Regions from separate parts of the Homo sapiens genome. Here region 2 is linked to region 1. The links come from fine-mapping of genetic effects on gene expression. A gene starts in region 1. The other region holds a variant in brackets. All regions are shown on one strand. Distances are between the middles of the regions. Region 1 holds the start of ODAPH (odontogenesis associated phosphoprotein). Region 2 overlaps USO1 (USO1 vesicle transport factor).

What was found. PIP is the estimated chance that this variant, and not a neighbour inherited with it, causes the effect.
Region 2: its variant is the best candidate, but not a certain one, in a credible set for the expression of ODAPH in prefrontal cortex (CommonMind, PIP 0.67).

The regions. Positions count from the first base shown.
Region 1 is chr4:75,553,476-75,557,875 of GRCh38, reverse strand. ODAPH (odontogenesis associated phosphoprotein) reads right to left here and starts at 1,810. Exons shown (of 2, transcript NM_178497.5): 1 at 1,727-1,810. The coding sequence starts at 1,793. RefSeq lists a silencer at 1,783-2,077.
Region 2 is chr4:75,740,419-75,744,818 of GRCh38, reverse strand. The region is part of intron 1 of USO1 (USO1 vesicle transport factor); the gene reads right to left. Among named protein-coding and RNA genes, the nearest start is that of USO1, 18 kb to the right of the region's middle. The variant C/AGTAC (reference allele first, on the strand shown) is at 2,604.

The DNA.
Region 1 (4,400 bases):
CAAGTGGAGGGAGCAGCTGTGGTTGCTGCCGTGCATCAGTGAGAAGAGGATGAGTATGGAGATCCACACATGACCTTGTCGGGCAGACCCAGGGTGTGTGTGAACGAGCGATGAACTGGAAGCAGGGGCTGCTGGGATAGAATGAAGCTACATTTGAAGGACTTCGAGGGATTGTAGGGAAAAGTGAGCCAAATTCGGAAATCAAATCTGGTGTTTCAATGGGTGTTTTGTTTTTTGAGACAGAGTTTCACTCTTGTTCCCCAGGCTGGAGTGCAATGGCACGATCTTGGCTCATGGCAACCTCCACCTCCTGGGTTCAAGCGATTCTCCTGCCTCAGCCTCCCGAGTAGCTGGGATTACAGGCATGCACCACCACACCTGGCTAATTTTGTATTTTTTGTAGAGATGGGGTTTCTCCATGTTGGTCAGGCTGGTTTTGAACTCCCGACCTCAGGTGATCTGCCCACCTCGGCCTCCCAAAATGCTGGGATTACAGGTGTGAGCCACTGTACCCAGCCTCAGTGGGTGTTTTTAAGATGTGAATAAAATAAATCTCTAATCTCATTATAACTTGTTTAGCTATGTGTTTACAAAGCCTCCTGAAGAGCGGTTCACTTTTTGCAGAGAAAGTGGCAGGTGGCTAGTTTTGTTTTATGATGCTTCTTTTAGATGTCACTTTTAGTAGGTGAGGCTTGGGGGCCTTGCCTTGGGATATGGGGGCAGGTTTTGTTCATAATCTATGCCCTGTCCCCTGATTGCCAGAGTGTGTGCAGAGGTTGGATCAGGGGGTTTCTGAGTGTTCCACAACCAGCTCTTATGTCTCTCCCCTCCTCCTGTCTATTGTGAGCTCTGAGGGATGGGAACGGGGAATCTGTCTGGGGATGAGCAGGGTTTGGCTGAGCCCCTGCAAAGCCCCCTACCCAAGACATGTGAAAGGGGTGAAGTGCTCTGTTTGACTCCTAGGTCCATCTTCCGTAAACAGCATCTAGTTTTGGAATTAAAATAAACTGAAGAAAAGGTTAGATCTAGGCTCCCCAAGATTTCCTCCCCTTGTATTTCCCTCTTTTCATCCCTTCCCCAGCCTTTTCTTTCCTTTTCCTAGGGGTTTGCAAACCAATTGTAAGGCTCAGGACACATTTTGTAGTGGGAACAAAGAAAGAGAATAGGAACAGTTGAGAAATGGAATCTAATAAAATCCTAAAGAAAGAAACCTGTGCCCACCTCTGTGGCACCAAAATGCAGCTCAATAGATGTGATTAATTAAAGCAATGAACAAAGACTAAATACCCACCATGTGCAAATTAATATGCTGCTGGAGATAGAAAGTGGACAGTGCTGTAATTCAAAGTGGAATTGTTAGCTTTGTAACCATAATAACTAGTATTTGTACAGTGTTTTTAGCTTGAAGAGTTTTTCACAGATGATAGCTCATTTGGTCCTTGCAAACCCCATAACGATGGATATTGTTAATGTTGTCACTTCACATATGAGGAATCTGATACTCAGAGATTTTAAGTGTGTCTAAAGTCACAGAGCTATTGCTGAGACGAGGACCAAGGTCTTCAGGTGACAAAATCCAACTTCCTTCTCTTTAACCACACAGGCTGATGGAAGCTGAGGTAAATATTTCCAATTTATGGGAACGTATAATCATGGAGCCAGTTTTGTCTTTTCCTACAACTTATTAATTAGTGGACCCACAGTAGAATAAAAGCAAAACCCTTACCTTCTGCCACAGTTACCACCAACCAGCATACCAGTAACCAGTAGGAGAAGCAGTGTCTGCGAGCCATGGCTTCTACTGAGCAGTCACTGCGTTGAACCTGATGTTGCTTTAAAGGGGAGCTGGTGAGTCACCAGCAGCCTGATTCAGGTAATTTGCATTTGCACAGTGGACCACAGAGATCAGGGCTTGCGGTGTGAGGGTAAGAAATCAGCAAGGAAATACCAGACAGTATTTGTCAACCAGAAGCTTCTTGGAATGACAGCCAGATATCAATCATCTCCCCCCAGAGGGGGATTTTGGACAACCGCACCTTCACCATCCTTCTAATCTCTCAAATCTTCTCCCATGTTAGTGCCTTTTAGTTGTGTATATCAGTCTTCCTCTGCAAGAGAAATAAGCTGTCCAGAAATATGCAACAGTGCTTCTCTCTGTGCAGCTTACCTACTTAAAAAGCGAAACAAGAGGGAGAGGGCATTACCCGGAGGCTTCCTGACCCCGGTGGTTTGCAGTGGAGAGTTGGGGATCATTCTTAGGCCCCCAACCAGGGTTTATGCTGCTTCTCTGCTCTGCTTTTGTCCAGGAGGTGAGGGCAGCAGAATCAGAAAGTGATCTTCCCTAGTGGTCATGATGGTCACTGTCTAAACAAACATAAACATTGGGAGAGTAACTTAGTGAGTCGTCCTTTCACGGCTCCTCCTGATTCACCATATTGCATATAAAATGGACATGACATGTCTATGTCCAGTTGGTTTCCTGAGAGAAAGACTTCATCAGCTGCTGGATATATGAGAGGGGATTGTCACAGGTGATTAAGAACATGGACCTTGGAGTCAGGTAAAATTCCAGTCTTTGTTCCTTTTCTTACTAGCTGAGTGACTGTGGTGAGTCCCTGAGACTTGCTGAAGCCTCAGGGGCCTCACCTGTAAAATGGGACTTGTGGTACTACCCTCAGAGGAATTTGTGAATTAAGGAGATGCTTTTAAAAAAAATTTTTTTTAAATTTCAATCTTTTGGGGTACGAGTGGTTTTGGGTTACATGGATGGACTCTATGGTGGCGAACTCTGAGATTTTAGTGCACTCGTCACCCGAGCAGTGTACACTGCACCCAATATGTAGTCTTTTATCCCTCACCTCCTTCCCAACCTCCCCCACCCCTAGCCTCTAAAGTCCATTATATCATTCTGTATGTCTTTGTGTCCTCATAGCTCAGCTCCCACGTATAAGTGAGAACATACGATATTTGGTTTTCCATTCCTGAGTTACTTAACTTGGAATAATGGCCTCCAGCTCCATCCAAGTTGCTGCAAAAGACATTATTTCATTTTTTTATGGCTGAGTAGTATTCCATGGTGTATTTCTACCACATTTTCTTTATCCACTCGTTGGTCGATGGCCACTTAGTTGGTTTCATATCAAGGAGATAATTGACATACAGCTCCAACCACAGTGCCTGGCCTGTGAAAGGGAGTGTTTGTGATTGTCATTAAATTATAATAATCCCAACTGATAATTTATTCTCTTAGGAGGCTGTACTTGCCAAATCAGTTAATCACTGGAAAGACCTCCACTTTAAGCAGAACATTTTCCTGGGTATCATGGAAAAAAAAAAAAAAAAAAAAAAAGAACAAACTAAACATGGTCCCTGTCTTTGAAGGACTGACAATCTAACAAGAGAGGCTGTGCAAACTGAAAGTCTAAATGAATAAGGATGCAAACACTCACAGATAGAAAATGGAAAGTTCCTCAGGCTTGATGTTAGTCCTAGGCAAACTTCCAGAACAGATAATCAGATGGATGATTTGTCAGCAGTTTGAAAAGGAATCAGGAAACATCCAGGACAAATTGAGTTCCTTAGACTACCCATTCATTCAATAATTCTGTATTGACTTTTATTTATTCAGTGTCAGACACTGGTCAAGGTGCTGGGGCTAAAGATAAGATTCCTGCTCTCATGGAACTTATAGTTTAGGAGACATTAAAAATTAACTCAGGAATAACAATAAAGCGTTTTGAGTGCTAAGAGAGGGGAAGGACTGAAGGCTATGGGAGAACGAAGCAGACAAACACAGTCTGTAATTTTACATCAACGGGTCAGTATCACATATGCTACTTTGTCCCCTGCATTGTAAATACACCACAATGCCAATAGAATTAGATTCACATAATCACTTCAGCCACTGCCTGGTGTTTCATTTTATAGATTTACTGTAATTTATTTAACCAAACTTTTAACTGATGGACATTTCTATTACTTCTTCTGATTCTCTTTCTTTTTTGTTTTGGAGTGCTAATGAGCTTTCATCTTAAATGTTGATGAAAATAAATAACAAAAGCAAAATAACTTATTTTTTCATTCAAATCTGTTGTTCTGAAGTTTATAAAATAAAGGAACAAAATTTTAAAAGGAATACATTTTTTTTTCTTTTGAGATGGAGTGTCATTCTGTTGCCCAGGCTGGAGTGCAGTGGCACCATTTGGCTCACGGCAACCTCTGCTTCCTGGGCTCAAGCAATTCTCTTGCTTCAGCCTCCCGAGTAGCTGGGATTACAGGGCTACTCAGGAGGCTGAGGCATGAGGGTGTGCCACCACACCCAGCTAATTTTTTTGTATTTTTGGTAGAGACGGGATTTCACCATTTTGGCTAGGCTGGTCTCGAATGCCTGACCTCAGGTG
Region 2 (4,400 bases), 190 kb before region 1:
GGGGGCCTTTTACTTTTCATTTTATACACTTACACAGCATTTATTTAAACAATCATGTATTCAGATATTACTTTTATAATAAAAAACAAAAAGGATAGGGGCTGGGCGCGGTGGCTTACGCCTCTAATCCCAGCACTTTGGGAGGCCAAGGCAGGCAGATCACCTGAGGTCAGGAGTTCAAGACCAGCCTGCCCAAAATGGTGAAACCTTGTCTCTACTAAAAATACAAAAAAGAGCTGGGTGTGATGGTGGGTGCCTGTAATCTCAGCTACTCGGGAGTCTGAGGCACGAGAACTGCTTGAACCTGAGAGGCGGAGGTTGCAGTGAGCCAAGATCACACCACTGCACTCTGGCCTGGGCGACAGAGTGAGACTCCGTCTCAAAATAATAATTATTATAGAATCAAAAAACAGCAGTGAATAAGCCAGCTGAAGTCTGATATCATGAATGAGCCATCATCCTTCCGTATCTCAGTATATACTCTGGGGTTTAGGAAAGTTAAAGGTCAAAGGAATAATACAGTCTGAAGAATTTATTGTGGTAACCCTGAGGCTGGTAATCCATTCATTTGTTCAACAAATACTAGAGTGCTGCCACACTTATGGGGGGGCCAAGAACAGTGCAACCTGAAGCAGTGGTTTATAATAAACTAACTTCAGAAATAGAGACTAAGCATTTAGAAACCTCTATAGACAATGGATACTTTTATGGCTGTTGGATCTAATAAAAAAAAGAAAAACAGGGGCGAGGCACAGTGGCTCATGCCTGTAATCCCAGCACTTTGGGAGGCCATGGCGGGCGGATCATGAGGTCAGGAGATCCAGACTATCCTGGCTAACACGGTGAAACCCCATCTCTACTAAAAATACAAAAAATTAGCCGGCCGTGGTGGCGGGCGCCTGTAGTCCCAGCTACTTGGGAGGCTGAGGCAGGAGAATGGCGTGAATCCAGGAGGCGGAGCTTGCAGTGAGCCAAGATCGCGCCACTGCACTCCAGCCTAGGTGACAGAGCGAGACTCTGTCTCAAAAAAAAGGGCTTGTATGTGATGTCATTTTTTCTAGTAATTGATTTTTATTGTATTTTATAACAAAATGTATTTACTGGCCTATGATGAAATTTGAAAAACAAACTAAAAAATCAACTGGTCCTTCACTACAGACAGTCTGGGAAACACCGTTCAAGTACTTAACATTTTGCAAGGCACTGGTCTACGCTGGGAAAATAGCAGAGAACCAGTACAGAAGGTACCTATTCTAATGAAACTATAATGGCAAAGAGACAGAATATATTAAAAACAAGTAAGACAAACACAGAAAGTGAGGGAAGTGAGACCGTGACTGAGTGAAGGTGCTACTTTGGACAGCACAGCCAGGCAGAGGGGCCTTAGAGAAACACAATTTTGGATACAGATGGAAGTGTGAGTAAGGGTAACAAGAATGAAGCAAAAAGAAGAGTAGGAAAACCGACTCAATGAGTATGTTACCATCAGAAGGAAAAACAATTTAATTGTACAGTTAAAAGATAACACTTATTCGGCCAGGCATGGTGGCTCACGCTTGTAATCCCAGCACTTTGGGAGGCCGACACGGGTGGATCACGAGGTCAGGAGATCGTGACCATCCTGGCTAACACGGTGAAACCCTGTCTCTACTAAAAATACAAGAAAATTAGCCAGGCATGGTGGTGGGTGCCTGTAGTCCCAGCCACTCGGGAGGCTGAGGCAGGAGAATGGCTTGAACCCGGGAGGTGGAGCCTGCAGTGAGCCGAGATCGTGCCACTGCACTCCAGCCTGGGCAACTGAGCGAGACTCTGTCTCAAAAAAAAAAAAAAAAAGATATGCTTATTCACTTTCCCAGATGGGATCCTGAAGCAGGCTTTGTTGCTGGAACCTCATTCTCTTGGAAACCGACCAAAGAAGACGATTAGTAGTTTTAAGCAAAATTCATAAACTCACTGGTCATCTGAAGTCACAAACTCTTATCTTAGTTCTCAACACTCTCATCTACATGATAGGAAAGTTGGGAAGGATGTAAAACATTTAGATATCAGATTTTAATGTAATCTAGCACCTTATCAATTAGTGATCAAAAGAGGGAGTTACAACACAGAAGAAATTGATCCACTCTATTTTCATGAGAAAGTCAGAAATGTTTGCCCCTAGGCCTTTTAACAAAGTATTTCTTATCTCAGCATACTACCAAGGCACACATTTCAACCATTCTGTACTTGAAACAAGTAACTTTTCCAAAATTTCACCATCTGAATAACACATATGTAAATACAGTGAAGATAGGTAAGATTACAGAATAGAAAAGTGTTAACAAGAAACAAATGCCTCAGCCTATTTGTTTGAAACAAATCTCCAAAACCCACTGTTAAAAATTTTAAAATACGCATGGCCTACGTAACGACATTCAAGTCAACAATGGACCACTGCACAGACGTCCCATATGATGATAATGGAAATGCAAAATTCCTATCACCTACCGATGTCCTAGCCTTAGCACAACACATTACTCATGTGTTTGTGGTGATGCTGGTGTAAACAAACCCACTGCACTGCCAGGCTTATGAAAGTATGGCACAGACAATTGTGTACAGTA[C/AGTAC]ATAATACTTGATAACAGTAACAAATGACTGTTACTTGTTTATGTATTTACTATATTATACTTTTAATGGTTATGTTAGAGTGTACTTCTACTCACAAAAAATAAAAGTTAACTGTAAAACAGCCTCAGGCAGGTCCTTCAAGAAGTATTCCAGAAGAAGGCATTATTATTATAGGAGTTGACAGCTCTATTGCATGTTACTGCCCCTGAAGACCTTCCAGTGGAACAAGAGATGAGGGTAGAAGACAGTGATATTGATGACCCTGCCCTGTGTAGGCCTAGGCTAACAGGTGTTTGTGTCTTAGTTTTTAACAAAAAAGTGGCCGGGCATGGTAGCTCACGCCTATAATCCCAGCACTTTGGGAGGCCGAATCACCTGAGGTCAGGAGTTCAACACCAGCCTGGCCAACATGGTGAAACCCCATCTCTACAAAAATGGAAAAATTAGCCAGGCATGATGGCAGGTGCCTGTAATCCCAGCTACTCGAGAGGCTGAGGCGGGAGAATTACTTGAGCTTGGGAGGCGGAGGTTGCAGTGAGCCGATATTGCGCCATTGCACTTCAGCCTGGCTGACAGAGCGAGACTGTCTCAAAAAAAAAAAAAAAAAAAAAAAGTTTAAAAAGTAAAAATTTTAAAATAGGAAAAAGCTTATAGAAGAAGGATATAGAAGAAAAATATCGTACAATGTGTTTGTGTTTTAAACTAAGCATTATTACAGAAAGCTTTAAAAAAAGTTTAAAACTTTATGAAGTTAAAAAGTTATAGTAAACTAAGGTCAATTACTGAAGAAAATTTTAAAAAATGAATTTAGTGTAGCCTTAAGTGTATAGTGTTTATAAAGTATACTTTACATAATGTCCTTGGTCTTCACATTCATTCACCACTCACTCACTTGACTCATCCAGAGCAACTTCTGGTCCTGCAAGCTCTATTCATGATTAAGCGACCTATATAGGCATACTATTTACTATCTTTTATGCCACATTTTACTGTAGATGCATAGATACACAAATATTTACCATTGTTATAATTGCCTACAGTATTCATTACAGTAACACGCTGTACAGGTTTATGGCCCAAGAGCAATAGGCTACACCATACAGCCTAGGTGAATAGTAGGCTATACTATCTAGGTTTGCTTTAAGTACACTCTAGGATGTTTGCACAACAAAACTGCCTAATAATGCATTTCTCAGAATTTAGCCCCGACACTGAGCTACCAAGAACTATCACAGTTACAGATTTTTATAAAGAAACTCATTTGTGTAAATATATATATTGGTAAATACAAAAGACAACACTGTAGAAGGATGTACACCAAACTTTACTAGAGATTACTTCGAGTGATGCGAAGTAAGACTGTGAAGGAAGAAAGAGGCAATTTTAGACTACATACTGATTTGGATTATTTACAGCAAGCATATTTCCATTATTGCTTCAATAAATAAAGAGAAAAAAATTAAAGAAATTTCCATATTAGATCTTGCTTTTATTACCTACTCTAAAATACCACCTGATTGACTATTCACCTGGTTTATGAATATAACTGTTTGTTGCTATTTACAGTAGCTATGTTTTATAAAGTTACCATGAAAACTGAATTAGTGAATACTAAACCACTGCTCCTAGGCCAGGCGCAGTAGCTCATGTCTGTAATCTCAGAGTTCTGGGAGGCCGAAAAGGAGGACTGCTTGAAGCCAGGAATTTGTGATCAGCCTGGGCAACACAGCTAGATCCTGTCTTTATAAGAAATTTAAAAATTAACCAGGCATGTTGGCGAGTGCCTGTAGTCCTAG